Linked DNA regions of Homo sapiens: all the other regions are reported to be linked to region 1. The links are microRNA targets in miRTarBase. Many come from high-throughput screens and were not tested one by one. Region 1 holds a microRNA gene; each other region holds the end of a gene's coding sequence.
The links. Region 1 holds the annotated microRNA hsa-miR-26a-1-3p (CCUAUUCUUGGUUACUUGCACG, at 3,241-3,262, opposite strand). A microRNA usually pairs through its seed, bases 2 to 8, with sites in the 3' UTR of a target mRNA and lowers its output. Matches are read on the target gene's strand: a 7mer-m8 pairs with bases 2 to 8, a 7mer-A1 pairs with bases 2 to 7 and ends in A, and an 8mer does both.

Region 1 (5,429 bases):
GCCCCACACAGCACAGGCACCCTGCCACACCTGTGAAGGGGGAGACTAAACCATACTGGGAGGCTTGGGAACCTGCTAGTTTCCTTAAACAGTGGAGAGGACAAAGAAACCATTCTATTTGATCAGAGCCAGTGTAGATTTTAGGTCAGATTCATATCAAGCTTTAGGATCAAGATATGTCTGAATGATTTTATCATCACCAATAAATATATGTATATATATTTTTGAGACGGAGTCACTGTCGCCCAGGGTGGAGTGCAGTGGCATGATCTTGGCTCACTGCAACCTCTGCCTTCTGGGTTCAAGCAATTCTCGTGCCTCAGCCTCCCGAGTAGCTGGGATTACAGATGCCCGCCACCATGCCCAGTTAATTTTTGTATTTTGAGACGGGATTTCACCATGTTGGCCAGGTTGGTCTTGAACTCCTGACCTCAGGTGATACGCCCTCCTTGGCCTCCCAAAGTGTTGGGATTACAGGCATGAGCAACCGCGCCCGGCCTATCATCATCAACAAATAATTGTAACACAAAATAATGAACATCAGGAGTGCTTATCATGTGACAATGCCCAGCACAGTATGTGGAACACAGCAAGTGCTCAATGAATACTTGCTGTATGTGAGCCAGACACTGTGCTAAGTCCTTTACATATGTTATTTCATGTGATCTAGCCACAAGGTAGCTGGAATTATCCCCAATTTATAGAAGAAACTGACATGAGAAGTGAAGTAACTTGCCTCAGATCATACAGCTCATTAGGGCAGTTGGAACTCTCATTCAGCCCAAGCATGTGGGTGAGTGTCCAACACTTATCTCTCACTTGCTTCTCCCTCAAATCTGTGAAAGCAAAACCCAAGGACACAGGGGCCTCTAGCAGTTGGCTGACAGTCAATGGTTGAGGGGTACACCATCCTTTGTCCATTACACTGGACCTGTTTGTGATTCTCTGGACTGTGGACACCCAGCTTCAGGTGGCTGCACACAGCAACTTCATGGAGCATTTGTTCTAAGTGCTCCCTGTCACCATGGTAACCCAGAAGGCTTTCAGACTGGCACCATGCACATGGCCTGCATCCATCCCATCTGGGGTGGGAACCTGTCACCATAGAAATGGCTTCCCCCACCAAAACAAAGGGCTGCTTGACAGATTGGGGGTAGGGGTGGAGGGGCTGGGAGTACCAGGCTGGGAGTGTGGGGCTGGGAAGCAGGACTCACCTTGGCCAAGCTGGCAGTAAAGAGCACACATTCAAAAAGCTGCCCCATCCTCTGGAGGAACTCGTCCACATGTGGCCGCTTCAGCACATACACCTGCAATGGCAGGAGACAGCAGGCTGGTCAGATGTGGCAGTTGCTGGGGATGGCCTGGGGCCCAAATGCCCACTGTAGGAAGAATTGCTACAAAGGTTCCTGCCTCCCTCCCCCAGGTCTATGCATAGCAGGCAGAGGCCTAGACTGTATGAGGGGCTATGGAGTCAGACGTGGCACTCCTCAGACAGGGCTCCAGGTCTGAGTTCACTGCAGACGCCCCTCCTAAGGGAAAAAGAGAAGCTGACCATGGTGTGAGGGTCTTGGGGATATTCAGGGCCAGCAAATGGAAGGGTTGTACCATGTTTGTGTGTAATGACTCATTCATTTCACGTGTGTTTCTTGGCACCTGCTGAGGGTCAGGACCTGTGTGGGCACGGGCCACGGTCTGGGTGTTGTCCTTTCAGAGGTCCAGGCCCAGCATATTGCCCAGCAGGTCTGGGATTGCTCCGGCTGCCACCTTCTGTTCTGGATGGACATCCCCCTTACTAGGAAGGTCTGGGGTTGAAGCACAGGCCCAGCAAAGCTGCAAGAAGGGGCTTCCTTGTCAGCTTGGGAAGCTGTCTATGACACCATAAAGGGTGGGCTTGGTATGTTTCAGGGGATGTGAAACCATCGCTATTCCTGGACCCCAGACATAATCCATCAGGAGGGGTCTCTGAGCAGAGGGGTGCAAAGAGTAGCCTTTTCTAGAATGGCTGGGCTCTGTGCACCCTTTTGACCAGGCCAGGCCAGGGGGTAGCAGTGAGGAGGCCAGGCTTCAGACCATACATAGGTTCTTGATTAGGGAGCCTGAATGAATCTGGGGAAACAAGGGAGATGGGAGAGAAGGCAAAGCTGGTGAGAGAAGACAGAGGAAGTGGGAGGAGGGAAGAACTAATTCAAACTTGAATAAATTCCGTTTGAAATTAGCCACTTCACTAAAATAAATCAAACTCTTTAAAATTCAATTCAGCATGTTTACTGAGCCTCAGCTCTGAGCTCAGCCTGATGTAGTTGCAAAGATGAATAAAACACAGGCCTTGCCCTTGAAGAGCTCATACTCTAGAACAGACATAGGCAAAAACATATAAAAATAAACATGGCATAATGAAAGTTGTAGTAGAGGGATAAATTAAGGACAATTAACTCCCCTCACAAGGGGAGGGGATCATAGAAGATAACATTTGGCCTGGACCTTGAAGGAGTTCACCAGGCCAATAAGGTTGAGAAGAAGTGGGCTTTCAGGCAGAGGAAACAGTAGAGGGTGAGACCCGAGGCCTGAGAATACTTGAGAAGCTAGAGAGTAGCCAGGCTGTGTGCCCAGCCATCAGAGGTAGTGAGAGAAGCCGGAGCAGCAGGGTCTGGGAGAGGAAGTGGCTGAAGATGAAGTGAGAGGCAGGTCACAGTGGGCACATTAGGGCCTTGAATGGCAGATGGAGCAGGTGAGAATGGCAGGAGGAGCAGCAGAGGGGAGATGAGGGCTCTGCACCACATGCTGGGTGTGCTGCTGGCCGAGGAATTCTATACAGAACCAAGTCATTTTCAAGGTGCCAGAAGCAGGAGCTCAGGAGGGCCAGGACTCAGTGGGAAATTCATGGGTGACTGAAAGAAGGAGGTGGACATGGATTTGTGGCTGAGGGTGGAGCGAGGGGCTGGAGGAACAGGATGTCGTAGCACGGGTGCCAACACAGCTCTGAGGAGCTGGGAGGCTGGGGTAGGGCTGAGGGCAGGGCCTGTGGCTGCAACAGCTGCAGACTCCCACTTTGCCCACAAGACTCCTCGTTGCCAGCAAACGGGTGTGGCCTGTAGTCCTCAGTCACCCTGGGAGTCCTGCTTGGAAAGCAAGCTTTGCTACATGCAAAGGGCAGGAGACTGATTTGTGAACTCTGGTGTTGGTGCCTCTGGCAGAGAGGGGGGTCCTGAGCCCGGATGCCGGCGTCCAGGCCCGCGTCCCCGTGCAAGTAACCAAGAATAGGCCCATTGGGACCTGCACAGCCTATCCTGGATTACTTGAACGAGGCCACGGCCTTCGCCAGGGCCTTGGTCCTCCTGCTCTTGGCTCCTGTGGCTTCATTCCCTCGGGAGAGAATTTCTGACCCCAGCCCTGGGACCTTGTGATATCACAGCACAGCCAGGATGGAGGGTGGGGGAGCTCCTGCAAGAATGGGTCAGCAGTGGGCAGGCCAGTCATGCTTACAGTCACGTGGTACAAAGGATTAATTTCTCTCCTAATTCTTGCTATGCCATTGGGCAGCCTCTCCTTTGTCTCATCATGAGCACTATGTAACACAAGCCAAGATGATAAATGCAGAAGCCTTAACTGCTTCTCAGATGCTGAGTTAATTCAGTTGATGCTTTTGCAAATGTTAAATGCCCAAGTGCCTGCCGTTTTGGCTCTGTGATGGCTTTTAAAAGCATGAAGTGTGGAAACACTAGGAAAAAAGCTGCCTCTCCCCGGGACTGTTTCCTGGCAGGATGTCCTGGAGAATAAGCAAGAAAGCAAGGACATGGGAGGGAAGGGACTTGCGTATCAGGAAAAGAGCCCTGGGCCAGGAGGCAGGAGACTGGAATTTTCATTTTAATTCTTCCCATCGTATGACCTTTAACCAACCCCTTCCCTGGCGGAGCCTCAGTTTCTCCATCTAGACAATGAGGCAGCTGGACCAGCTGATTCCCAAGCTTTCTCCAGTTCTGACACCTTGCACTCAAGAACCAAAGACTACTGACATTGCTAAGAAAAGACATCCCGTTGTGGCTCAAGTACCAGGAAAGTCTCCTTCCTGGGATATCAGGCCAGATACGCTCCCTTTAAGACCTTGGACTTGACAAGGAAGATGGTTAGATCATCCCTGTGGAAAATCTGACAAAAGCCCCCCAGCTTCAACCTCTAAAGCTAGTTTTCCTACAACATTCCCAATTTGTTCATAAATGAAGTTATTTCCGGAAGAGCTTTATGCAGATAAGGAAAAAAAATCAGAAGCAACGAAGACGCATGCCAACTGACTACGGCATCTTTATTCATAGCAGCCTGCGGATCCGAAAACTCACACCCTTCCCCCTTTTTCTTTTGGGGTGGGTATTTGCTAAAGATTCTCTGGAGAAAACGATGCAGGAATGATAAGATCAGTCTGGAGCAGCTGGCATTGAAAATGGACACTTTTTCCCGAGAGTCCACCATAAGTGGGTGACTTGTGGCATTTTCCTGTTGCCTGCTAGGAGAGTAGCCGAAAGCAATTACACAAGGAAGTTAATTAGACCATCAAGCTAGGCCAGTGGGGGATACGGAAACTTCTGAAATTCAAATCAAAGAACTATTTGAACTTGCAACCGCATCTAATATTTACGACTATAGTTTCCTTATAATCTCAGTATAAAATAAATTCATTGGAGTGAAAAAAAGAAAAACATTGTATTTATTACAGTATGCTTCCTTTTGATTCCGTAATAAAGTTATTACTGAAATGAGAATTTAGAAATAAAGTTCATAGGAAATGTAAGTACTAAAAAATCTTAATTGAAACTCAAATTTAGCTTCAGTTTCTTACCTGATGTATAGTTCCATCGATTTCAACCGGAACAATAAAATCAGCATTACTAATAGGCTAGAGAAAAAAGAGACTATAATTAATATGTCTGAAGGAACAAAAAAACTCTGGAAATTTTAGCAAGAAAAAAGCCTGCCTAGACCAATGTTTTGGTTATTGGAAAAAACAGTTCAGGAGGAGGATGATGAAGCATGCCTTGGTTCCTTAAAATAAGCACAAGCAGGAAAGCACATTATTTTCCACTGTGAATGTCATTACATTTTCAGCATCTTGGTCCAATATCACCTGCCTGGCCTCAACCAAAAAGTGTGGCACTGCCTGGCTAGAGGATGGGGCTCCTGAAAACTCCAGCTCTTGCCCAGAGTCTTGCTGGGGTGATGGGGAATCACTGCTAGCCACCAGGGGGAGGAGCTGAGCATGTAATGGGCTCCGAGGACAGTGCTGCTTGAGGGAAAACTATTTGTACTTGGACCCACAACTGGCGGCTGCCCTGCGATGGGCTGCTCAGCAGGAGAAGATGGCCACACGGACTCAAAACAGTAACAAGGCCATGTGGGGGTAAAGTCAGAGGCCGCAGGCCACACCCTTGGGCAGGCTC
Region 2 (5,424 bases), not on the chromosome of region 1:
ATGGTGAATATTAGAAAAAGAATCATAGTCCTTTAAAACATAAGCCATACCATTGTGGTATACAATCAGGAAAATTCTGTATTTATATATATTTTAACATTTTCTATTAACATTTAATACATTTGCTCAGAGTAATGGGTTTTCTATTTGCCTATAACTAAGCATGACACAATATTTGATTTCAGAATTGATGCATTTTTATTTCTCTGTTCCACTCACATGCAGCACCATCAAATGCCTTCATGTAACCAATGTCACATCTAATACTTACTAGAATAAGATTCCATGTAATTTGATTTAAATATTTAACTTTGAGTTCTTTTGGTGTTCAATCTCCTTGCTATAGCTATTAGCTTGATGATATTATTTTCAGCTGCACTGCTTAAGCTCAAAATTTGAAATCTGCAAATGTGCTATCTTTCTAAGTTCAATTTTACCATTGTAGATCATGATGTCATAGCAATTTCCTGAGTACCCATTTTCAGATTCATCATCACATTGGTGACATTGTGGAAAAACAGCCTAGGATCTCTCGAGAACAACTAACTGATCCCTCTCCTTCCCTACCCTCGTCCCAGGCCCCTACCATTGATATCCGCCCAAGATCAGCAACCATTCAAATGAATAATGCTACACACCTTCAAGAGAGAGATGAAGAGTACGGCTATGAGTGTCTGGACGGCAAGGACTGTGCCAGTTTTTTCTGCTGTTTTGAAGATTGTCGAACAGGAGCTTGGAGACATGGGAGGATACATATCCGCATTGCCAAAATGGACTCCTATGCTCGGATCTTCTTCCCCACTGCCTTCTGCCTGTTTAATCTGGTCTATTGGGTCTCCTACCTCTACCTGTGAGGAGGTATGGGTTTTACTGATATGGTTCTTATTCACTGAGTCTCATGGAGAGATGTCTGTTCTAAGTCCACTTAAATAATCCTCTATGTGGTTGATAATGATCTGAATCTGTTTCTATGTCCAAACCTGGTAAATTTTATAATGTCATATTGTTTGTGCCCAGCCCTCCTTTGGTTAGTGTACTTTGAACTTCGATGTTTGCTGTGTTTCAAACCTGCAAGGCAAAGTAAAATTAGAGCAAGAACATTCAAACCAAATAAGATATTTTTCAGCTACAGCAAATAAAACAGTGAAAGCCCTGACTATTTACAGTAGTGGTATCCTTACTAGATTCATAATGCAATTAGATAGAAAAGGTCCAAAACTGTACCCTATGTTCACTCCGGGTCAAGTTGTGATAAATTTGATCCCAATAGAATACCTCCCTCATTTAAGAAAAATCATAACTCACTTTAAATATGAAAGCCTAGTCCAGAAATCTATTACACCTTTATCTCAAGATAGGAAGAAAATTTCCTCCACATTCATGTACAATGATGTAAATATTTCAATAACTTAGAATGCTTCAAGTTTAGTGCATGCATCTCTTTAGATCCAAAATAAATGGACTGAAGTTATCATCCTATTGTCTTTTATTTTGTGTCCTTGGGCTATAAAAGATTCCTGAATGTAATTATAAGGATTTGGGTTTGGAAATGGAGGGAGGAATTTTCATTGCCTTCTCCCTCATGCATGAAGATTCGAACAGCTTATTTTTTCCTTGTATGACATATTACAACACTTTAAGTAAAATATAGACTGGATAATCAACATTTGCCACCTCTAAATATGCCCAATTTCATAACTAGAGTATAAAGTAATTGTATGTGCTTGCCGCTATTTTTTTCTTCCTTTTAGGATGATAGATCATAACAGAACTTATTCTCCATCTCAAGATCTGCTTCTAGTGATTGTGAGTGCCTTGTGGGCAGAATCCTTGTCATTTCCTCTTTGGGTCTGTAGCACCTTGCATAGTGCCTGGCATATAGTTGGTGCTCAATAAATATGGTTTGAAGTGAATTGCCCTCACATGCTTCTGGCAAATCTCTGTGCTGGCCTGAAACCAGTGACTCATCTTCTCACATAGGTGTTGTCAAGTGATATTTGATTTTGTAAAAATAACCAGTAGGATCCAAAGAACTTTAGCTATTTATGTTCATCTTCAAAAAATTATTTTAGGCAAAGTCCATACTCCTTTTAAAACAATATTTATGTCCTATGTTTGTGTATAGACATGACTCTACTAGGGCATAATTAGAGTTTGTGTATTATTTTTCCAGGTTTGGGGATGAGTCAGTCCTTGCCCATCCACAATTTTGTTTGTGAACTTATAACAGGAATAAGCAAAATTCATACCTGACTAGTGTTCAGAATGTAGCATTCTGTGCGAAAAAGTATTGAAGATTAGCTTTTAAAAACTGAAAAAAAAAAATGAATGACTCACATAGAGGTTGAGCCAATGACTGTGGCCTCATTAGATTACATTGTAGTTAAACAAAGCAATTTCTCCAGACTTAAAACATGATGAGTTGAGCTCTATCTTCATGTACTCATCCTGAATCCTTATTTTTCTAAAATAGCACCCTTTGTTAATTATTTTTATGGAAATTATTACTCTGTCATAATTAAATCATAGCTAGTATAACTTTACAGATAACCTAAAAAGAATAGAAAAGAAGAGAGAGTGGCTTTGTCAGTATAAAACCATGTAAAGTCATCATCAAGTCATCTGGATGAATCTTGAAACACATTTAGCTGCCAGTTTTACAAACCTTTAATATATCAGTGCTCCAGTATATAACCTCAAACAAATGTAAATAGAACGAATTATTTTCTTGTTTTGAATTGTCAATATATTAAATGTTGACTCTTTGGGAGAGTTGTTGGCAAGTTTCAATGGTGAGAAACATTATTGTCAACTTGAAATGTGTTCTGTAATGGGGACACTACAAAAAGCTAGCTTTCCAATGTGTGCATAGTATTGGCAATATGAATATATATTATATATAATCTAATACTTATTATAAGCTGCTCCCTGTCTATGTATTTGGAAACCTTTTCACAAAGGGAATTGCCTAACATGTGGACTTTTACAATAAAAATGCTGCATTCTAATCCATGGTGGCATCTCAGTAGTCTGGTGGGACTGTTTGTCTTAGAGATTGTGACCTCTCTTTCCTGCCTCATTTCCCCAAATCCCCTCTCAGTGAGCTTTATCTGTGAGCTGTGTGACTGTGTTTTGCATGGCGGTACTCTTCACCTCAAAAAAATTAAGAGAGGCATGTGGGTTGTAGAGTGAAGAAGAAAGGCAGACATGTAATAAAGTAAGTAAAAATTCAAGTCTTCTCTACCTCAAGAATTTCGGTGTGGTTAACATTAATTCCAGTGCCAGACAAAGTTGGGATCCCAGCTTTACTATTTACCAGTTGTTAGACAATTGTCAATTCAGACTTTAGAATCCTCCATTAAAAATAATTTATGTATTTGTTTATTTGTTTAGAGATGGGGTGTCCCTCTGTCACTCAGTCTGAAGTATAGTGGCACAGTCATAGCTCACTGAAGCCTCAAACTTCTGAGCTAAAGCATTCCTCCTGCCTCAGCCTCCTGAATAGCTGGAACTACAGATGCATGCCACCATGCCCAGCTAGAAGTCTCCATTTTAGCAGCTATAAATTAGATATACCAATGCTAACCTATGTAGTGACACTCAACAAATGGTCAAAAGCTCTCTCCCTCACTTCCGATGCCTTCCATGCACTGCTGTCATGCTCCCTTCATCCTATCAAACTAGCTTCCCTAATAGAATCCAGCATTAGGCATATAAGCCTTTAAGTGACTCTACATCACTCTATTTTTATTTTTAGGAAATATTTGCATTGCAAGTCTTTTAAACTATATGTGGGAAATTTCTGTCTCATTGGAAAAAAACTTACACATTACATTAGTTATTTTTAAGGCCAAAGAACTGTTATTTGTACCCTCAAAATTTACAAACATACAAAGTTGATTAGCCCTACTCCAGAGACAATGTCATGTTTTCTTGAACTCTTTTGAAATTCTCCCAGGAATATAATATTATCTTCACAACACAGCTGCCCTAACCATCCTTGGCCCCATTCTCTTGGCCCCTCATATCTTCCTGCATCTAATTTAATCATCTATTTCTCACCTTCCAAACCTATAAAAATATAGTTTTCACTTAGATGTTGTCTGCTGTCTAACTCAATGCCCTGAACTTTAGCTGAATTCATATCTTTATATGGCCTTCATTCCTTGCATTAAGTCTCAATATTATTCTGACTAGTAGCAAAAATTTTTGTCTGCAATGAAGGTCAAATTAAGTTAACAAAATGATGTGGTCTTCAGGGATTATGTCAAAAATTGCTATCTCTATGCTTTGTCACTATGAATCTTTGTCAAAGGTGTAGAATATGGGGGAATGACGTAGACCAAGAGCTCGGCTATGTTTTCTAGTGCTCAGTGAACTGCCAAAGGTCACACAGCTAGTTAATGACAGATCAGGGGGTCATCTAAGCATTGCTCTTTCCACTGTGTCTCACAGTATTTCAGAATTTAGAAGTAAAATTCTGGAATACTTTATCTTTCTGTTAATATTTTAGGATCTGCCAAACTGCAGGATGCTTTCCTTCTTTGATCTAAGCCTCACTTTGACTCATTTTATTGCAATGAGACAGGAATTTGAGAATACCTAGTAACAGAGGGAAGTCAATGGGTTTTGTATTTATTTTATTCCTTCTCATGTGAAATGACCAATTGATATTTAATATTACCCATACTGCTTTCAGAATGCTGTTTCAAAGAAACATCTAAACAACTCCAGACCTAGAGTTAGCCTTTGTCCTTTGGGATATGTGGCAGTAGACAACCAAAAAGTTTCCATGGCTAGGATCTGCAGGCTCATTCTTTCTACTATTTAAGCAAAGTGGTGGGGAATGACCTAACTATTATGATTCTTTCTAAGGTTACAGATTATAAGCCAATTGCAAAATCCAGTTGTAACTTTCTTTTGCCACATTTTGGATAATAAAGAAATAGTTTCCTCTAATTATGGTTTGTGTAACTAATTGGAAAAGCAGAGGCTCTTGCTCCAGATTAACTAGGTTCAAATATCAGCCCTGTCAACTTTTGTCTGCCTTAGTTTTCTCACCTGAAAAATGGAGATAATATTGGTGTGTATCTCAGACTTTATTATAAGGAGAAACTTAGTTAATACCAAAGAATTACTGGATGCTAGTAATTTTCCTCAGTAAGGATATAAAGTTTCAGAAAATACAGGGTACAAGAACCATATCTACTTTGCTTAAAAATATTGATCATCATTTGTGAGGACTCTCTTTTCTCATAAAAAAAAAAGTCACTGGACCGGGGATAGAAATTTCATTTAACATCTGGGGATTTCCAAATATTCCTATCTTGATGATATTCAGTTTCTTACGTAAACAAGGGAATTTGGCCCCTTTTTCTCCAGCAGATTTTTATTCGATCACTTCTCTGCTATTTGCTATGGCCT
Region 3 (5,429 bases), not on the chromosome of region 1:
TGGTGAAGCTGCTGGTGGGGGCCTACGACGCCGATGTGGACATCAGGGACTACAGTGGGAAAAAGGCCTCCCAGTACCTGAGTCGGAGCATCGCCGAGGAGATCAAGAACCTGGTGGGAGCCCTGGACGAGGGTGACGGGGAAAGCGCCGCGGGTAGCGGCGGCGGGCGCTGGAGGCTTTCAAAGGTGCTTCCCTCGCATCTCATCACCTACAAACTCTCACACGCCCTAGAAGATGGAGGGGACCATCACCACCATCACCACTCGGCTGAGGGGTGGGTCGGAGGCAAAGCCAAGGATCCAGGGCGCAAAGCCTCGGGCAGCTCTAGTGGACGTATAAAACCCAGACTCAACAAAATCCGATTCAGAACCCAGATCGTCCACACCACACCCTCTTTCAGGGACCCAGAGCAGCCGCTGGAGGGCAGGGGGGAGGAGGGAGTGGGGGAGGAACGACCTGTTAAAGGCCACTCGCCCTTCACATTGAGACCAAAGTCCAATGTATTTGGGTAAAAATTGCTTCTTTTAGAAAATGCAAAGGTTTATTTGTCTTAATAAATTGAATACTAGGTGTTGTAAGGAAGTGAGACCAGAAGGACAAGCTAAATTATGCATTCTTACTTGAGGGATCGGAATGGATGGGGCGGAGTTCTCTTCAGGCTAGCCTTCTGGGAAAAGTGGATGTCTTTTTCAGAGATTCATCATACCTTGACCTGTACCTCTTCTCTGCCCTCCACTTCCCTGCCCTGGAGTCCGTTTCTGGAGACTAGAAATGTATCTAAATTGGGGGAACAGAATGAATGAATTAATGAATGAGAGTTCCTTTGCTTTAACCATTCCTGGATGCCTGCAAAGTAAGGAATAATGCAGTTTTTATGTATCTGATTTTATAAGGGGTTACTCTTTCAAGAGTAACAAAAAAATGCAAACTGTAATGAAACTACATTGTATTTCTAAGTGTGAAAACGACAGGCTGCCCCGTTTTTACTAATTGCATTTGCATTTTAAGGTACTACTGAAGGTCAGATCAAAGTTGAAATGCAAAAATACTAATTAGAGAATAATGTGAATAAAATGGGAATCTTCTTGGTATTTTATGTGTATTGTAAGTAGCAGTTAAATTATTTTTTTAAAAGCAATTTCAGTTTTAATCACTGAACAAAAGAAACAGGCAACATTCACTTCTGTAGTATGGTTTCCACCTATCTCTAACACCACTATTAAGGTACACCAGTGTTAAGGTACATTAATAACTACACAAAATTTTATTTAAAGAGAACACTTAGCAGCCTATGATAGTTTTCAATAAAATGTTGCCTCTCTTTCGGATTCTCACTAACTTTTGTTACTATTCTAAAAGTTTGAATTTGCTGGGGTGTTTATTCTGAGGATTATTTAACCATTGTTCTATTTGGCATAACCCTATTTAATGGTGCTTAGAGCTGAATTACCTACAGAAACTGTTTCTGGTTTAAATAATTAGCACAAATTGGCCTAAGTATTCATGAGCCCATGTTTCTGTGAAGTAATTATTAAACCAACTTAATGATTCTTATGTAAGGTACACTTTTTATTTTAATACATTGGTAGTCTCTATGACTTGTAGCAATGTTTTACAAATGTTTAAAATGCTAAACTTAATTTTCCAAGCTTTTCTTGACAATTAGATACCTATCCTGTAGTTACTGAAAATCTGGGTAGTAAATCTACCCAATTAAAATGGCACTTTATAAAAGGGAATAGAGAAGAGATGGGACTATTTCTATATTTAAATGCTGCTGGCTATTCCTTTGTATATAAATGAAAAATACCATTCATTAAAATTAAGTACTCGTTTAAGTATGGTTCTTAATTACATTTCATTCATTTATATTAGAGTAAATGGCTTCATAACTACTTTAAAATTTAACCCACAAGCATATTAAATCTGTTTGTTATAAGATTGGAAACAATTTTTGAGAGGGACTAATTTAAACAAGTCCTCCTTTAGTCTTTTGGGTCGCGTAGTTGCTGAAACCTAAGTACCTGCAGCCTACAGGATAAGGAAGTTCACAGCCTGCGGGGTGAATGAACCCATGTGTGAACTGCACAGAGCAATTCATAGAAAATGCATAGAAATTTGTAACACTTTGGTCACATCTGTCTCTAGATGGTCATTGAATTTGTTTAAAGATGGATGAAAGGCCAGGCATGGTGGCTCATGCCTGTAATCCCAGCACTTTGGGAGGCCGAGGCAGGTGGATCACTTGAGGCCAGGAGTTTGAAACCAGCCTGGCCAACATGGTGAAAACCTGTCTCTACTAAAAATACAAAAATTAGCCGAGCGTGGTGGTGCGTGCCTGTAGTCCCAGCTACTTAGGAGGCTGAGGCATGAGAATCACTTAAACCTGAGAGGTGGAGGTTGCAGTTGAGCCAAGATCACGACACTGCACTCCAGCCTGGGCAACGGAGACTCTGTCTCAAAAAAAAAAAAAAAAAAGATGAATGAAAATATGAAATATATAAACTAGTATCCATTTATTTGCATTTATTGTGGGATTTCAGATATGAACGGTGTAAATTTGAGAAGCACTTATGCATACATGTGGGTGAAAAACCAATCTAATTTTGTATAAATAAAAACAGGCTCCTGGAAGGTGAAAAGTAGTCATTTGTTCTAAATCTATACATATTACTTGTATCTAGTGCAGAATAAGCTATAACATCCCATTGAGGAATCTTAAATTTCATAGACATGTAAAGCTGAAGTAACTCTAAAGAGCAGATGCTTCAGAACCATCAGAAGGTTCTGGTCAACAGTCAGTATTATCTCTTAAATGTATATGTTGGTCACTAATTGCACAAAATCTATAATTTGCCAGGGCTTTAGAGATTGAGTCAATATGTCATTTACCATGGTTTTCCCACTGAAGGCTTTAACTTTTCTGATAAAATAATATTTTAAATTTTCAAAAACCCATTCCTGAGGAGAACTACTTCTAGCATTCCTTTTCATGATGTGCTTTTGTGCAGTAAGTAGCATTTTCGGCTACTTAACTTTACATTCCTCTTATTTTTCAGTTTCCAGTCAAGATTATAAAAAGCAAATGATTGATATAATTTGATATTCATAGAGTTGTGCCTACCTTTAATGGAAAAATACATGTCAGATACTTAGATGTTTATTGATATGAGACTATGTGGTTAAAAAACCCAAGTATGTCCATGTGTTTCTTATAAGGTACACTTGAAACTAGTGAGTGTTTGTCACATTTCACTTTCATGGTATATAAAATGCAGTTTGCATATATAACTTGAATATCTGGTACTAGTTTTTTCACGCCTGCAATCTTGGAGTCTAGGTTGCCTTGTCTCTCCTATTTTTAAATAAGTGAAATTTGGGAGATTGTAAAATCTGTAAAGTTTGTTTTGTGAAAATAAAATGTTCACAGTAGAATTTTTCTCTGAATTGTCTAAGTTTCTGTCGTCCTTTAGACTTTTTACATATACTGTGTTTTACAGTTCACAAAATGCTTTTTGAAGTTTCAGTTTATTTGACCCTTTTCCTATCCCTTAAGATTATGGGCCATATATTGTTGACTTACAGATAAGAAAATAGAGGTTAATGGTTGTTCAGGGTCACACAGTAAAAAGCTGTTAGTAAGATTATAAGAGTCAGGGCTTTCCCACAACGTTATCTTTTCTGCACATTGAATTGCCACATTTTTAGCAAAACTGCTGTAGTTTGGCACCAGTGATGGAGGAATCAACTTGGAGAGAAGGTAATACCTCCACCACTACCTAAAAAAAAGCTGTATGGGTTTTGCACACACCATCTGCCATAAACCTGCCCTACCCAGGGCTGACTTCAAGACAGGTGTAGGAATACCGTTTTTCATTTTTCAGCCTCTGTGAAGCATTGAGAGTTAATTACCTCATCAAGGCTTCCTGTGATCTGTATTTTTAGCAAAATTCAACTCTGTTGAATGGCAAAGGGATGTGGTACTCCTTTGGTGTAATCGCCCACTATTGCTCTATCCGGGAGATCCCACTGTGATGGCTGCTGGGGTTATTCTTGTTTTATGATAACCCATAAAATATTTTTCAGGATCACTGAAAGACTAGATAAGTAGTTTGTTTTTCTAGAATAACTTCTTTCCTTAGAAGTACATGTCTTAAAAGGATTTATTAACCAGTTCACTTAAAGATATTTTTGAAATTTTCCTAGTAAAAATTATTTTTATTTTGCTAAGTAAATAGCATTATTTGGAGTTTCTTACATGATTAATTCCAGGATTAAATACTTGGAATTTGCTGTAAACCAGTATTCCTTCAATGATCACCCAAGTCTTCATAAATCACTGAATATTAGAGGGTTGGAAGATGACTCTACAGAAACTTGTTTCTCAAGATACAGAAGTCATGTGGTTCACATAACTACCTGCTTTTTCCATGAAGAACACTATACTTTTTTTCTCAATCTTCTCTTTAAATGTCAGTTTCATCTCAGTAAGTAGCTTTCCTATTCTGTTAACTAATAGCCTATTTTTCCACATCGATGCATTGGTAAGGAATGTGTGACAAATGTTCTACCCTTGCACAGTGCCTGGCATGTTGAAGGTACTCAGTAAGGGTCTTTTAATGGAAAACATTAAATATTTTATAATGTTACATAATATGGATAATTCAATTACATGCATTCATGCTATGTGAATAGTTTTTTTATATAACATGGCTCTTAAATACCAGCCTATCAGTTCATCTGCAGCTCAGCCAAAAGAACAGCAAGTTATTCCAATCCTGAAGATAAAATCAGCTTTATTAGAACTGTACTTCGTGAGCGATTTAAGAGATTTTCAAGAGTAAATTTGATTATAAGAAAATTTTGCTGGGCGTGGTGGCTCACGCATGTAATCCCAGCACTTTGGGAGGCCGAGGCAGGAGCATCGCCTGAGGTCAGGAGTTCAAGACCAGCCTGGCCAACATGGTGAAACCCAGTCTCTACAAAAAATACACAAATTAGCTGAGCATGGTGGTGCATGCCTGTAATCCCAGCTACTTGGGAGGCTAAGGCAGGAGAATCACTTGAACCCGGGAGGCGGAGGTTGCAGTGAGCTGAGATTGTGCCACTGCACTCCAGCCTGGGCATCACAGCGACTCTGTCTCAAAAAAAAAATAGAAAGAAAGAAAGTTTCCTTACAAGCTGACTCAAGTCCAAGACCTGTAGGAGAAATTATTCTAATTGGCCTTAAATAGTCTAAGTACTGTCAGGTATACAAATGACTACTTATTCTGTGAAATCCCAAAGAGCAAATGAATAGGGAAATGAAGTTTAGTTTAACATGGAGAACTTTCTAATAATCATTTTAAACATACCATGGACTGCCTTGTGAGATAGAACATTCAGCCTTTGGAAATGTGTCAGAGGTTGCATGAGCACCTGAAAATTTA
Region 4 (5,429 bases), not on the chromosome of region 1:
GGTACCCGGGATGCTGCTAAACTTCCTACAGTCCACAGGACAGTTACGGCAAAGGATTATCCCGCCCATAATGTCAACAGTTCCATGATTGAGAAACCCTGGTTTAATCGCTCAACTGGACTACATTGACAGGCTCACTGTTCCACTAGAACTATCCACTTACAGAGCTCTATATGCAGTGTGGTGATGCCGTGGGACATACGTTTAAGGCTGCATATTGCAGGCGGTGCAGCTGTCTGGCAGAAGGAACAGCCAATGCCAAGGCTGAGAGGTAAGAATCTGGCTGGCATGGGATGGCAGGAAACCAGGTGCAGCTGTTGCAGAGACTCACAGGAGGATGAGATGAGGGAGTTGGACTTCTCACCAAGAAAAGGAAAAAGACAGCGTGCCCTAAACGATGACCCCCATGTTTGCAGTTGACAAATGTGTAGACTAATGGCCTCTTGTCTTCTCCCTGCCTTCCTGTTCTGTTCCCCTCCTTCCTCTTGCCTCCCTCCTGCCCTCAACCCTCTGGCTCCCTAGTTTTCGGCCACAACATGAAGAGCAGCAATGACTTCATCGGGAGGATCGTCATTGGCCAGTACTCTTCAGGCCCCTCTGAGACCAACCACTGGAGGCGCATGCTCAACACGCACCGCACAGCCGTGGAGCAGTGGCATAGCCTGAGGTCCCGAGCTGAGTGTGACCGCGTGTCTCCTGCCTCCCTGGAGGTGACCTGAGGGCTGCAGGGAAGGCAGCTTTCATTTGTTTAAAAAAAAAAAAAAAAGACGGAAAAAAATGTGTCACATACTATTACATCCACACCTGCATACACACTCGCAACATGTCTACACACGTCCACACACACAGACACACAGATACCCCAAATCCTCTCAGAACTGAGAGGAAGCTGACTATTGATCACAAAATGGCCGCCCTCAGTTGAGTGAGGCCTAGGAACTTTCCGGAAGCCCCATCCATAGATCACAAGCTCAGTGGGCTCTGCCGTGGGACTTATTGGCAGTGCCTGCTCTTGTCAATACTCCTGCCCCAAAATGCACTTTCAACCCTCAGGCCAGAGAAAGGACCTCCCAAAGGGTGCCAAGCTCCATCAAGACTAAATTTACCAAGAGTTTGGCCAGTGTGTGGGAGACTTGAACACCCCCCACTTCCGAAACACACACCTACTGGGTAACTTCTGAACAGGCTGCTGTTCCCTGGGGTTCTTCAAACCTGATACCTTTCTCCAAAGGTGTAAGTATCTTTGTCTTCTCCGTAGTAAATGTGATAACTAGATTATGGGCCATTTGGAGAAACCAAATGGCAACCAAAACTATTCCAGTGTCAGAAGCCTTTCCTGGCTTAACAGAATTGTTCTTGTGTTAGCTCATCCCAGGGAACGCCCTGTGGGTATGTATGTGTATGTCCTCGTGCATGTGCCCTCACAGGCGAACACGTGTGTGCCTATGTGTCCTCTTGGAGAGCATGGCGATGGGCCAGGACCTCAGCCCTGAGCACTGCCTTCTCTCTGCCTCTCCTGTCCAGTGAGAGTCCAACCAGTGTCCTCCTGTCTGTCAGAGATCCCACTTTGGATAAAAGTAGTGTGTGTGTGTGTGTGTGTGTGTGTGTGTGTGTGTAAAGTAAATAGGATATGATAGAGCAAAAGTAACATTTTTTGACCGAATCATGGTGATTGTGACCCACGAAAGACATACAAAGACTTGATATATGGATTAAAATGGCTATCACACCCCATCCATGATGATCTTCTTCCTTAATCATACTCTGAGGATCTTTCTGTGTTTTTCTGTGAACGAATGTCACGTCTCTCGTGCTAAGGAATTAGTGTAGTTAGAATAGATCTCTCTCTCTCTCTCTTTCTCTCTCTCTCTTTCCTCTCTCTCTGTTGGATGCTTCTGTATCTTTTTCCACAGCATAATGTCTGGTGTGATGGGGAGCTATTTATTGAAATTAAAGATTATTTATTTGTGCCATGCATTCGAGTTATCTTTTTCTTCATGAACACAGGACATAGAAGGTGGGAGGGCATTGCAGCTAGTACTGCTGTGTAACAAACCATACTGAACAAGTCAAAACAATGATTTTTTTTTTTTTGAGACAAAGTCTCACTCTGTTGTCCAGGCTGGAGGGTAGTGGTGCAGTCTCTGCTCACTGCAACCTCTGCCTCCTGCATTCAAGCAATTCTCCTGCCTCAGCCTCCCGAGTGGCTGGGATTACAGGTGTGCACCACCACCCCTGGCTAATTTTTGTATTTTTAGTAGAGACAGAGTTTCACCATGTTGGCCAGGCTGGAATTGAACTCCTGGCCTCAAGTGATCCACCTGCCTCAGCCTCAGCCTCCCAAAGTGCTGGAATTACAGGCATGAGCCACTGCACCCAGCTTCAAAACAATGATATTTATTATACTGATAGATTTTGGGGGTCAAGAATGTTGAGTATTTGCAATATGTCTGTCTGACTTGAGCAGTGTACTAATGCCAATTATTCCAGTGTTGCTCTTCTATATAAAACTTTTCACTTCCTCAGGGCAAGATTCACGGCTTATTTAGCATTTTGTTGGCCAAGCCCTGCTAAGGGCATGACCCAGGTAACTGCTCCATGGGCTAAAATGGCTTCACCCCTCAGGCTACATTGGGTATTGCAGAGAGAACCTCATGGTGTCTCCCATTCTGGAGTGGAAGTGTTGTGGAGGTCAAGGGGGAGAAACAGGGAGGCTGGGTTAGGTTGATGTATTCATCCATTTTGCATTGCTGTAAAGGAGTACCTGAAACTGGGTAACTTATAAAGAGGTTTATTTGGCTCATGGTTCTGCAGGCTATACAGGAAGCACAGTGCTGGCATCTGTGTGGCTTCTGTTGAGGCCTCAGGAAGCTTACAATCATGGTAGAGGGCAAAGGGTGAACAGGCGTGTCACATGGCAAGAGAGGAAGTGAGAGAGGAAGAGAAGGAGGTGCCAGGCTCATTTAAACAACCAGCTCTAATAGAGTGAGAACTCACTCATCACCAAGCCGTTCATGAGGGATCCACCCCCATTACCCAAATACCTTCCACCAGGCCCCACCTCCAACATTGGAGATCACATTTCAACATGAGATCTGGAGGGGGAAACAACATCCAAACCATATCAGTTAAGTTCTCAGAAAAGGAGAAGTGTTTTCCTTCTCTATGAAATGGCTTCATTACTGTGGTTTACAGTAGAAGATAAAAGCATAAAAGAACAAACAAAATGAGTGAAGACAGGTACGTAATAAGCACTTAGAACTAGAGGTGGAGTCATTGGTGATGAGGCCCAAGGGCTTTGGGCCCAAGAAACCATAGTTCAAATCCCAGGACCACCACTCCTTAACTGTGTACTGGGGCACAAACCACGTAAGTCTTCTAAGCCTCAATTTCCTCGTTGTCTTAGGGTGCCTCAAAAACAGACCTTGACATGAGGACTTGGGTGCAGACGACCCCAGAAAGCATAAGTGAAGAATAAGGGGAAGGAGAAAAGCAAAAGTCTTCATGAATTAGTACTGTGAGCTCAGTCATACTGAGGACCCCTGTAGAAAACACTAAAGAATTATCATTATGCAGAAGCTGGAGTATTTAATTACTGACGCTTGTCCCTCCTCATGGCTTGAGGGCTGCCCTGAAAGCATTAAATGTTTGGCACTTCAGAATTGTCCAGTGTGGTCTGTATAAGCTCCCATAACACCAGAGAAATCTCTGGGCAGAGGAAGAGGCACATGTGCTTGATGAGGTCAGCTGTGTATGTGCACAACACAGCTCCCTATAGCCACAGGGGAGCCAGGTGGACTGAGGGATATGAGGCAGGGCATCCCCAGCATTAGACACCTTCATTAGTAATAACAAGAGGGCTGACTAGCACCACACGAGGTGCCAAACATCACATTTAAGCCTCATGCAGCAACCTTCAGGGGTGTAGAAGAGATGTTAATCTCCTTTTACAAATGGGGAGGCCAAGATTTTTTTTTTTTTTTTTTTTGAGGCAAAAAATTGCTCCGTCTCCCAGGTTGGAGTGCAGTGGTGGTATCACGGCTCACAGCACTGGGCTCAAGCAATCCTCCCACCTCAGCCCCCCAAGTAGCTGGGATCATAGGCCTGGCTAACTTCTTAATTTTTTTGTAGCGATGAGCTCTCATTATATTGTACAGGCTGGCCTTGAATTGCTGGGCTCAAGTGATCCTTCTGCCTCGGCCTCCCATAAGTGCTGAAATTACAGGCATGAGCCACTGCGCCCAGCTGGAAGTCAAGATTTAATAAGTTTAAGTGTCAGGTAACTGCAATAGAGATAAAAAGCCAGCCCAGGCCCAGCTGCCTACCCTGTTATGGGTTGGTGATTTGCTGGAGTCCTAACCTGAGACTGTGGCCTTATTTGGAGAGAGGGTCTTTACAAAGGTGATCAGGTTGAAGTGAGGTCATGAGGTGAGCCCTCATCTGATATGACTGGAGTCCTTATAAGAAGAGGAAATTTGGCCAGGCACAATGGCTCATGCCTGTAATCCCAGCATTTTGGGAGGCCAAGGCAGGAAGATCACTTGAGGTCAGGAGTTCGAGACCAGCCTGGCCAACATGGTGAAACCCAACTTTACTAAAAATACAAAAAATTATCCAGGCATGGTGGCACATGCTAGTAATCCCAGCTATTTGGGAGGCTGAGGCAGGAGAATCACTTGAACCCAGGAGGCAAATGTTGCAGTGAGCTGAGATCGTGACAGCCTGGGTAACAGAGTGAGACTCCGTCTCAAAAAATAGAAAGAAAAAAGGAGGAAATTTGAATGCAGAGACAGACACAGAGGGAAGAAGATGTGAAGAGACAGGGAGAAGAAAGCCATCTACAAGCCAAGGAGAGAGGACTGGAACAAATCTCTCATAACCCTCAGAAGGAACCAACCCTGTTGACACCTCAATCTCAGACTTCCAGCCTCCAGAACTGTGAGACAATGAATTTCTGTTGTTTAAGCCCCAGTCTGTGGCACTTTATTAAGGCAGCCCTAGCAAACTAAGTCAGAGCCAGTGTAGCTAAACACTCCACTGGGCTGTGTCATCTAAAAATAGGATGACAATTCTTTTTTTTTAAATTTTGAGACAGGATCTCACTATGTTACCCAATCTGGTCTCGAACTCCTGGGCTCAATCAATCCTCCTGCCTCAGCTCCCCGAGTAGCTGGAACTACAGGCACACACCACCATGTCCGGAAATAGGGTGACAGTTGTTACCCCTTAGGGTTGATTAGCTGGGAAAATGCCTGCAGAGAGTTTGTTTGTTTAGTTGTGTTGTTGTTTTGTTGTTGTTGTTGTTGTTTTGCCTGCAAAGTTTTACCATAACCCTTGGCACACTGCGTGATGGTGATGAGTGCTAGCACACATCAGGCAGTGTTTGCTGGATGATCAGAGGTAACAGTGGTGGACAGATCAGAGCCTTT
Region 5 (5,429 bases), not on the chromosome of region 1:
CTCGGCTGAGTTGTGGGTTAGGTGGAGCTGTGTGTTCTGGGGAAGGCCTGTCCCTCCCAGCAGCCCAGAGCCAGCATGCATTGTTGATTGAGGGGTAAACGGTCCTTAGAGTGTGTGAGAGAGAGCTGGGGGTTGCGGGGTGAGCCCCATGGGGGACATTTGCCCATGGAGTGCTGGGGAAACAGCCGGAGATGAGGACAGGCACCAGCACTGCCGGTGAGGACGGGTTGCCTGCGGGCCTTGTAGACGTTCTGGACATTTCAGAATTGGTTTTGCGTTCCCATTTCAGCGAATCGGGGAAGGAGATTCGTGAGGGCTGCTTGGTACCCGAGGATCCGAGGATGCAGTGGATGGGCTCATTCTGAGTGTGGTGCAGGCTCCCAGGATCATGGGCTTCCAGCTGGGGCTACTGGGAGACAGTGATGGCCCCCGAGGCAGCTGGTCCAGCGGGAGGGAGGTTGAACGTGATCTTGTTTGCCTCGTGTCTCGGGTGCTGTGGTCAGGCGTTGTCTGTGTGGTGGCCCTGTGTTTCCGTCCCCGTCCCACTGCACCGATGACAGGGTTTGCAGCTGGCGCTTCTGCTGCGAGCAGACTGAGGAGCCTTTCTTGTCCTTCTGAGAAGGCCGCTGCCCGGCCCCGCCTCACCCAGCGTCCTGTGGTCCTGCGGGTCCCCCTCTACCCTGGACTTCGGCCCCTTGTCTTTCTCTTTCAAACTCCTCCTCTGGCTCTGTTCCGCCCAGTTCAGTTCTTGGGCCTGATATCTGTTCTAACATCAGGCTGCGTGTGGGTTGGATGGAGCCCTCAGTCATCACGTAAACCCTTTGACATCAGTAAAACCCTGGGAGCAGCCGCTGAGCGCTGGGACATCCCTGCTCACCTCACTGGGGAGTGGCCTCAGGCGCTCACAGGGAACCGCAGTGACTCTGACCATAGCCACTTAACGCACACACACAGCAGAGGCCCTGGCGATTTTGCAACCATCATTAAAATCTCTTTCCTGACCTTTGCTTTCTAGGTGATTGAAAACTCAGCCTCAAAACAAAAAATTCACTAGTTATGGTAAGCTGTTTTCCTGTCTGTTTCCTCATTGTTTGTGGTGGCGCTGAGGGGACGCAGGCAGAGGAGTTTTAATTCTGCGGCTCTGCCTGGGGGCTGGGCTCATAGGAGTTGGCAGAGCCATGGAGAGGCCCCGGCAGGTTCCCAGCCAGCCCAGACCCAGGCCACGCGCTTGGGGACAGACCTAGACCCTCCACCTCATCACGTTTGCATTACTGGCTGGGGAAGACCCGCATCCTTCACGCAGGCAGAGTCGCCCTGTTCCCTTGTGCCTCACTTGGGAAAAGCCAACCCGGCTCACAGCGGCAGAGCCCACGGGCCTTTGATAAACATCTGGGAAGGGAGAGGCCCGGTCCCCAGCACAGGCACCTCACTCAGGAGAGCGGAGCCTTGCTCCCTCGTCCGTCCCGTCCCCTGTGCTGCTGTCTGCGCCCCGAGGTGGCACTGAGCTGGAGCCAGCACCCCCCCAGCAGCCACCGTACAAAACCATAGGAAGGTGGCCCAGGGCCGGGCGGCAGATCAGGACCTCGGAGCTGTGGGGCTTTGTTGGATCACTTCACACAGCGGTCCTGGGAGAGTCACTGGTTTTATACCTGACCCTTGTGGAGCTAGAGGGGACAGTGAACCATTTTTCCCTTGAAAGGAAACTTTGTCCAAATGTGTCTGTCACATGTAGTCAGCAAGAGGAATTTAAAATGAATTGCCAAGTGAAGAGTCTGTGGATTAATTGGCCGTTAATTAACAGGCTTTATCAATGTGTCCTCAAGGGAGAGGCCCAACCCTAATTAAGGAGCTAAACTTCCTGAGTGAGGGGCTGTGAGGATGGAGGTGGAGGAGGCATCTGGGGCGGGTGGTGGCCGGGCCCAGCAGATGGCGCCTCCCTGGCTGAGCTGCCCGCACCGCCAGTTCCCTCATTTCCACTCAGGAAGGCAGAGAAGGCAGAGTGATCTCCTCAAGGAAGAGCTTCCCCAGCCTTCGGGAGCAGCTGGCAGGGCGTCCGGGAATAAGCCCTACACGCCGCCGCCTGCCTCCAACTCACTAACCCTGCGCCTCTTGTCTTTCAGATTCAACGCGTTCAACAGAAGCCATCCCCAGCCCAGCTTAAATTATAAAGATAGACAATAACTCTGTTCCAATCTGCGTGGTGCTTCTTTAGTAAATACTGTACAGATTTTACCATGGAGAACTTTTTTTTTAGTTTTTACCTTTTCTTAATTACCCTTATTCCGAATGGACGAACACTTTCTACCACTGCTGACCATTGTAAAATACCGTGTATATAAATCCCATTGAAATAATGCCCTGGAATAGAACATCTCAAATGCTGCTTAATTACAGACTCAGGTCGATTACTTGTATTTCATGTAATGTTCCTCCAAGTTAGACATCTGGTGCAAGACCAACCGGGAGACCATGGAATTGTCAAAAGTACAAACTGACAGTGTGTATATTTAATTTAAAGACTTATTTAAAAACTCACAAGCTCTCACCTAGACTTTGGAGAGCAGTCTGTTTTCTGTAATGTCTGATACTAGAAACTAATTTGCTTATTTTAGTTGTATTCAAGATTTGAAGATGTATTTTATAGACAAGTTCTGTTTTTGAACTTTGTGGAACTGTTCCAATCAATCAATTTCCCAGTTATGATGAGTATTTACATTATGAATGTATAACCCAGACATGATTTGTAAAGCCGACAGTATGTTTCTATTACACAACACTTTTTGATACAGCGTCTCTTGTCTTCACTGATACTGGAGTCTCCGTTGTCTGCTTGGTCCCTTCGAGTTTCTAGTTACAGACACAATCATACTGTGATTTTATTTTTAATATGGATATGCTATCAAACTGTGATACACTTATAATTCACTGGTCCTGCATCAGGAGATGGAGTGGGGAAAACTGTATTTAATACAGTTTGTATCTGAATAATCTGTATGGTTTATACAGTTTGTGTTGTTCAGAGATGTTTAAAGTTTGATCTTTGTTTTTCTAAAGATTAAAAAAGCACTTGCCCCACTGTAAATATACAGCATGTAAAATTTCTATAGTATATAAATGGCAGCAAATCACACACTTGGCGTCTTTTTACTGTTGTTTTCCCCATTTGCTTCCAGACTCCTTCCTGTCATCATCTGAATTCACTTTCTTAAAACCTTCAAGTAAGTGCTCCTGCCGAAGTCGGCACCTTCGGCCAGGCCATCCCACCTCGGACGGGCAAAGGAAAATTGGAGGGGTGTTTGCTGGACCCAACAATATCTGTTTTAAAGAACCAAGTCTTAGGCTTGTTTTAACAATACATGTGATTTTTATTTAGTGAACACAGTATCTGCAAGAGCTCTGACAGCCATCCACCCTCCAATCTTACTTCACTTTACAACCAAGTATCAATAGAGGCTGTTCCTTCATGCGAGCTGTGGGAGTATATACATCATTGAATAACAGACACTCCAGAAATCAACAGATGTACATTATTTACATATTACTATATTTACCGCAAATAGAAATATTTTCTAAGAAAAAAAGTCAATTTGTGGTTTCTGGTCTACCACAGACCTAACTTCTCAGCAAAGCATATCTATGTAGATATCTGCGTTTGTAACTTTAAAAATAGGCATTGCTTTCTATGAAGCACTAAGTGCTGCTCCATCTATAAATAGCTCCTATTTTCAGTTTGGTACCACATTAAACTGCCCCAAAATGTTCTGTGACCCCAAAGACACAAAGTTGCTGCTTATCTGGGTCCAGGGTCAGTACAATTAAACTCAAATATGAACCAGGGCGGCCAGCAAGACAGGCTGGAAGGGCTGTGGCAGTCGCCGCCGCCTCCCCGCGGGGCTCCCCTCACTGCCTCCTGGCCTCTGTCTCTGGAAAAAAGTATCTTTGGCCAGAGTTGGGACTAACAATTCAAGCCCTGCGCTCAGACGTCAGGGTGGGGAGGAGGAGGACTGTGATTGTGACGCGGCCTGCCCAGGGTGAGGGACAAAAAACAGATGTGTCCTGTTTCAGGGCCGTCCTGGTAGCGGCTGGCCCTGCGCAGTCACTGACCCAGAGTTTTCTGGACCAGGCCTGCCTCAAGGATCAGCAGGCATGATGGTCGCACAGCCTTCATGCTAATACTGTCCTAACACAGCCTGGAGCTAGGCGATTTCCTTTGACCACAAAGTACCTGGAGTCTAACTCAGCACCACAGCCTCTGCATGGCTCCCAGGTGCCCACCACCTGGCGAAGCTCATTCACAGATGACAGCAAAGGGGGAGCTTGATCATCTGGCGACTCCTTCCTGCTGCTTCTCCCAACACCCAAAACAGAAAGCTCTGCATCCCCAGGTCACACCTGGGTTGGTCAGAAGAAGGAAACAGCTTGTCCGAGCACAACATGCTGACAGAGCTGGCTGTGGCCAGTCTTGGGTGCCGGGCCAGCCTGAGGGGTGGGCACCGCCGGAGCCGGCCGTCAGTGTGTGGTCTGGGTGGGGGTCCAGGCAGCATTTATTTTCATGGAAGACTGGAGGCCAGAGTTGCATATCTACCAGTCAGGCATTTCAAGAACGCTGACTTGCCTTTCTCAGAACTAAAACTTCCGATTTGAGGTATCAGTAACAAAGCCTAAGAACGTGGGAATGAAAGTCTGATGCAGGACAGGGGTTTCTGGCCTCGGACCCCTCTGCAGTCTAGTGTGACTTAAAGCTACATCAAGGTCAGCCGCAGGGAGGCGAAGGGCCCGCAGCCGCTCGGCCTCCACTTCAAGGCAACTCAAAGAACAGTCTCCGCTGCTGAGAAGGAAACCTAGGTGCACAAAGTCTGAGGTTTTGTCTCTGGACTGGGCATTTTGCACAGGAGTACAGATGCCCTCCAGAGGGTGCAGATTCAAGGTGTGTGTGCCTATGCAGGTGGGGCAGGAAGAGGAAGTCCATAGAGGAAAAGCCAGCCACCAACCCAACAGCCCACTGTGTAACAGGGTCCTGGGGACGCAAATCTCCCGACAGAGAACAGCGTCTGCCACCGGCCCGGGTCGGCCCAAGCACACAATGCCCCCGGTCCAGCCCTGAGCCCTCTCTGTAGGTGGGGCCCAGATCCAGCCTTCCTTGAGCGGAGCACTGGGCACCTCCTATCCTTACATCCACAGCAACCTGACAACCTCCCAGGCGGGCGTGGAGTTTGACCAGTTCCACCACCGGCGTCTATCTGGGTTCTCTACGTGCCGGGCCTCTGCACCCCAGGGCCTGTTCTTCCCTCCTCGTAGGGAGGGCACCTCTCTCAGGACACGGCGCACTACATGGGGTGAGACTGTTTTTAGTTAATTCTGTGTCTATTCATTAAGAAATCTGGTCAAATTAGAAAGTCTGTAAAATAAGCGTTCATTTTGCCACAGGT
Region 6 (5,429 bases), not on the chromosome of region 1:
GTTGGAGCTTCCCAGCTGCTTTGTTTACCTAAGCAAGCCTGGGCAATGGCGGGCGCCCCTCCCCCAGCCTCCCTGCCACCTTGCAGTTTGATCTCAGACTGCTGTGCTAGCAATCAGCGAGACTCCGTGGGCGTAGGACCCTCCGAGCCAGGTGCGGGCTATAATCTCCTGGTGCACCGTTTTTTAAGCCTGTCGGAAAAGCACAGTATTTGGGTGGGAGTGACCCGATTTTCCAGGTGACCCGTTTCTTTGACTAGGAAAGGGAACTCCCTGACCCCTTGTGCTTCCCGAGTGAGGCAATGCCTCGCCCTGCTTCGGCTCGCGCATGGTGCGCACACCCACTGACCTGCGCCCACTGTCTGGCACTCCCTAGTGAGATGAACCTGGTACCTCAGATGGAAATGCAGAAATCACCCGTCTTCTGTGTCGCTCAGGCTGGGAGCTGTAGACCAGAGCTGTTCGTATTTGGCCATCTTGGCTCCTCCCCCTTCTCTTTTGTTATGAGTGGTCAGGGATGTCCTCTCCGGGGTGGTGGTATTTGAGCAGACATATGGATAAAGTATGGAAGTGACACACAACTTTATTGAGAAAGACCATCTCAGGCAAATATAAAGTCTCTGAAGAGGAAGATGTGTGTGTATGTGTGTGTGTGTGAGTATAAATAATGTGTATATGTATGTATATTTTAATAACCACATAGACTAAAACTATCCAACTGAAACAACTTAGGTATACTTTGAGAAATATAAAATGAAATTGTAAGGTAGAGGTAGCATTAATAAACTATCTAGTATACCATTAAATAAGTTTGTGGTGATTGGTGATTCAACACCCGAATCATCTAGGTAAATCCTGAAAAACTCATATTTTATTAATTGCTTCTCCTTCCCCTTCTTTCCCCGTCCCCACTCCTTTCTCGTCTCTTTCCCCCCCTCTCCTTTTCTCCCATCTTTCACTTCTAATTTCAGTGAAATTGGAGCGATTTGAAATTCCAATCAAGGTTCGATTAAGCCCAGAGCCATGGACCCCTGAAACTGGTTTGGTAACTGATGCTTTCAAACTGAAAAGGAAGGAGCTGAGGAACCATTACCTCAAAGACATTGAACGAATGTATGGGGGCAAATAAAATGTTGTTGTCTTATTGACAGTTGTGCAGGAGGTAGCCTGGTGGTTTTCAACCTCTAGAATTTTAAGCCTTTGTTGAACTGTTAGAATGTAAGGTATATCATTCTAAAGATAGAGTAAAAAGAAAACAAAACCAAAAGTTATTAAAATTGTTGTCCGGTTTACTTTAACTTAGTTTTGCATAGTTCTAGTGCAGCTGAAATTGAAAAGTTATTTCCCTTTAGCTGTGTTATTATAGAGCAGAAATTCTGTTTTTAAAAATTAGCCTAAGATATACTTGTTTTTGTAAAGAAAAATATTTAATGTTGAACAAAATAAATTGGAGTTGGAGTAGAATGTAGTTTGAGGAAATTTGCAGCTTCCAATGCCTCTTGTCTTCCTATTTCAGAAGTTTAAATATTAAGCATGACAGAAAATATGTATTAACACTACTCAAAGCAAAAGTGCTGCAGGGCTTTAAAATTCTCTTCCAACCATTTATCTTGAAGGAAAAATTCAATAGTAATATAATACACAAAATCAAATAATACCTTAGAAGGTATTAAGATTATAATTGTTGCATAGGTTAGATATAGAGTCATTGTAATGTTGTGAATAATTACAGTGCCTAAAATAAGAATAGAACAACATATACAACACCAAAAAATATCTAGTAATATATTTAAAGGGAAATTGAGCTGCTTTTTTTGAAACTTTGAGATCTAAAAATAACTGTAATTATTTGAATGACTAAGAGGAAAGTACATTTTTTGAAATGCTGAAAATTGCCTTTCTGTGTTTATTCAAACTGAAAAGCTGAGACCAAGAGCAAGGAAGGTAAAAAGTTAACAGGCAAACATTTTCTCTTAGAAAAGGTGATAAAATCATAAGTATTTGGAATTAGAACCCTTGCACAGCACTGAACCTGGGAAAGAGATTTAAACTCTGAATTTATCTTTGATAACAGGGATTGATTTTAAAATGTACATGTATTAAATTACATTTGTAATTTAAGGTCTGTTTGCTGTTGCTGATTTTATTCTTGATCAGTAGTTTGCATTTCAGAAAGCCTTTCATTTTGCTTTAATTTTAGCAAAGCGGGTTATAATGAATGACTTCCCCAATATCTTGCTTGAACTTACAGGTGATTAACTTGGATGAGTTTTGGGAAGTTAAAGGGAAGAAAACACTGTTATCATTTTTTCCTGTTTGGGAAGAGCTTAGAAACTGGAAATACTAGATTTGGGAGAAGGGCAGAGTTACTTGATAAGGGACTGATGTTTGTGCAGTAACTTGGGAGTGTGGTTTCTTTTTGAATCTTTAATTAAAACCTGGGATTATATATCCCTGATAAATATTCACACTTGAACCATAGTTACTGTAAAATGCAAAAAATCTTAATACTGTTATTCTTTGCACTTTTTCTTAATCATTTTTTATATATATGCATATATATATGTGTGTGTGTGTGTTGCTTATGTTGTTTTGTACAGATGTGGGCCACCATTGCAACAAAATACATTCTTTTTGCTCTAAAATATTTATGAAGAAAATACTTAAATGTTATGTATATGGTGGTAATAAGGGAAAAATCAAGTATTATAAACAAGAATGAAGGTTTTTGTAAAGATTTCTGTTCAGCGTTTTGCAAGGTAAAATTTTAGGCAAGTTTTCCCTGAAGTTATGTGTATGTGAGTATTCTCATTCTTCCCAACTTGCCTTTGAAGAGTGAAATACCATTATTATCAAGTAGACTACTGTTCAGCTTTTATTCCTGCCCTGCTGTTTATCCCTTAAGAATGAGTTTCTTAGACTTTTCCAATATGTGATTTTTTTTCCCATTTAGAATGGTGATTTTAAATGTGTGAGTGCATGTACTATCTTATCTCAGATATTTGCACCCCCAATCTGCCCCCAACTCCCAAAAGCTAGAACACTGCCAACTGATCTGTTATAGGTCCTTTAGAAACACATAATTAACACTTAAGGTTGGGTGCTGCTAATTCTTTGCAAAAATCCAAATATTGTTAAGGGACCAGGGAGATGCCACTACCCCTTGATTTTCCATCTAAAAATATACATGTTTATGTAAACAAATCTTTCCATATCCATAGTGACTTTTCAAGTATTTAAGCCTAAAGATTTTGATCTCACATTTTTATACCTGTTTAAATTGCTCACAGTTATTACATACACATCAGCCATCAACTAAAGTTGTACTTTAAAAATTTACTACAATATGTACATTTCTAAGTCAAACACTTGTGACTTTTGCTTTAATTCCATGAATGTTCCTGCCTCCTTGATATTTGTATTTATTCTTTTTTTCTCTAGAGTAGAGGTATAATTGTGTGATATTTCAGAAATACAGATAAATGATTCAAAAAGTCACAGTTAAGGAGAATCATGTTTCTTTGATCATGAATAACTGATTAGTAAGTCTTGCCTATATTTTCCTGATAGCATATGACAAATGTTTCTAAGGTAACAAGATGAGAACAGATAAAGATTGTGTGGTGTTTTGGATTTGGAGAGAAATATTTTAATTTTTAAATGCAGTTACAAATTATAATGTATTCATATTTGTACTTTCTGTTAAAATGCATGATTGCAGAATTGTTTAGATTTTGTGTTTATTCTTGATGAAAAGCTTTGTTTGTTCTTGTTTTTAAGTTTGCACTCAAATCTTAAGAAATAAATCCACCCATGTTATCAAGCCAATTTGTACTTCATTATGCATTGAGATAAAATCTCCAAGTTTGAAGATTATTAACCAAACTTTTAAACACATATTTTTAAAGTACTCATCTCCAGGTTTATGGAATTGCATTAAGCAGTTAAACCGGCTTGTATAGTCCCATCCATTAGTTCAGAGTATTTGAATCCCAAACTGTTACTTTGGTCCAGTCAATAGAGTAAAACCCCTTTGTAACACTGATACTTTGGGACAAAACATGGATTATCAGTGGGCGCTACCAAATTATAACTGCTACTTTTAGGCTAATTAATATTTTAGAGAGAAATTAATTTGAGTTATATGAGGGTGTGTATAAAATGGCATTAAGAGCTCTATTTCCTGGCTTTGCCACTGTAGTTGTGTAACCTTCAGCAAATTAATTAACATTTTGGAGCTGCATTTCTTCATCTGGAAAAATTGGGTTGATGGATAATAGGATCTGCCTAATAGGATTGTTGTGAGAGTTAAAATGTAAAGTGTTTAGAACAATAGCTTATGTTAGCTATTATTATCATAATTATTATTGTACCTAGACACTATTCATCAGTCAGGTTGTTTAAAGTATTGACTAGCATACTCAGGGCCTTAAAGAACTGACTGCCCCTGAAGATTTTGTGAAAAAAGTTCTAGATCTAGAGGTCAGGAGACCTGGGCTTATTGACACTAGCTTTGTAACCATGGGCCAATCTCATAACCTTAGCCTTAGCCTTAGTTTCTTCTTCCCATTAAAAAACAAACAAACAAACAAACAAAAATTCAAAAATGATGCCTTTTGCAAAAAGGGAAAGACAAATGACAAAAGAAATAGGGAACATGATAGTCCTTATGGTCCATCATGTCTAGCTTTAGTATTGTGATATTACTGTTCCAAGCTCTATTTTCTTAAATGATGCCCTAGGTTCTGAGTTTCCTATAGGGCTATGAGGCTATGGATCACAAGAAGTTGAGGATTCTACTAGGTATAAGGAGTCTGTGACTCTTTTTTTTTTTTTTTTTTAATGTATTTTTGTCTTGAGATAGAGTCTCACTCTGTCACCCAGGCTGGAGTACAGTGGCTCCATCATGGCTCACTGCAGCCTTGAACTCCTGGGCTCAAGCGATCCTCTTTCTCACTTTAGCCGCCCAAGTAGCTGGGACTACAAGCACGCTCCAGCGTGCCCAGCTAATTATTTTTTTTTTTTTAGAGATGGGGTCTTGCTATGTTGCCCAGGCTGGTCTTGAACTCCTGGCATCAAGCAATCCTCCCACCTCAGCCACCCAAAGCGCTGGGATTACAGATGTGAGCCACAGTGCCTGACCCTTAATGTTTTTTTAAATTTTAATCAGGGTTTTGCACACATAATGTAAAGGAGTGCTTCCAAACTTCTTTTTATTGTGATCCACAATGCTGTGCACACATATTTTATGAAAATATTTTGTGAAAAAACAATACTAATGAGATGCACACTGGTTTTCTATTCTATTTCATTTATTTAAATGTTGGCTCTTACTCACTAAATTGATTTAATTACCCTGTAAAATAGTGCTGTTCAATAGAACTTTCTGTGAAGTTGAAAATATTCAGTATCTGCACTATCCACTGTAGTAG

Region 2: miRTarBase lists GABRG2 as a target of hsa-miR-26a-1-3p. Seed matches in the 3' UTR shown: 8mer at 2,558-2,565.
Region 3: miRTarBase lists SOWAHC as a target of hsa-miR-26a-1-3p. Seed matches in the 3' UTR shown: 7mer-A1 at 1,737-1,743.
Region 4: miRTarBase lists SYT17 as a target of hsa-miR-26a-1-3p. Seed matches in the 3' UTR shown: 8mer at 1,833-1,840.
Region 5: the mRNA of USP42 is a reported target of hsa-miR-26a-1-3p. Seed matches in the 3' UTR shown: 7mer-A1 at 2,362-2,368.
Region 6: the mRNA of ACSL4 is a reported target of hsa-miR-26a-1-3p. Seed matches in the 3' UTR shown: 8mer at 1,741-1,748.

What each region holds. Positions count from the first base shown.
Region 1 is chr3:37,967,285-37,972,713 of GRCh38, reverse strand. It overlaps MIR26A1 (microRNA 26a-1), which reads right to left and starts at 3,310; the gene lies at 3,234-3,310. CTDSPL (CTD small phosphatase like) reads right to left here. Exons shown (of 8, transcript NM_001008392.2): 5 at 4,832-4,888; 6 at 1,215-1,307. RefSeq lists enhancers at 2,515-3,076, 3,077-3,640.
Region 2 is chr5:162,152,515-162,157,938 of GRCh38, forward strand. GABRG2 (gamma-aminobutyric acid type A receptor subunit gamma2) reads left to right here. Exons shown (of 10, transcript NM_198904.4): 10 at 579-3,012. The coding sequence ends at 854. Among named protein-coding and RNA genes, the nearest start is that of GABRG2, 87 kb to the left of the region's middle.
Region 3 is chr2:109,615,556-109,620,984 of GRCh38, forward strand. It overlaps SOWAHC (sosondowah ankyrin repeat domain family member C), which reads left to right. Exons shown (of 1, transcript NM_023016.4): 1 at 1-3,435. The coding sequence ends at 512. It also overlaps a transcript of RANBP2 not described here. Among named protein-coding and RNA genes, the nearest start is that of SOWAHC, 3.9 kb to the left of the region's middle.
Region 4 is chr16:19,266,358-19,271,786 of GRCh38, forward strand. SYT17 (synaptotagmin 17) reads left to right here. Exons shown (of 8, transcript NM_016524.4): 8 at 523-1,975. The coding sequence ends at 719. Among named protein-coding and RNA genes, the nearest start is that of CLEC19A, 17 kb to the right of the region's middle.
Region 5 is chr7:6,158,435-6,163,863 of GRCh38, forward strand. It overlaps USP42 (ubiquitin specific peptidase 42), which reads left to right. Exons shown (of 18, transcript NM_032172.3): 17 at 1,016-1,059; 18 at 2,121-3,130. The coding sequence ends at 1,023. CYTH3 (cytohesin 3) reads right to left here. Exons shown (of 13, transcript NM_004227.4): 13 at 3,345-5,429. Among named protein-coding and RNA genes, the nearest start is that of USP42, 56 kb to the left of the region's middle.
Region 6 is chrX:109,639,726-109,645,154 of GRCh38, reverse strand. ACSL4 (acyl-CoA synthetase long chain family member 4) reads left to right here. Exons shown (of 16, transcript NM_001318510.2): 16 at 969-3,820. The coding sequence ends at 1,126. Among named protein-coding and RNA genes, the nearest start is that of KCNE5, 17 kb to the right of the region's middle.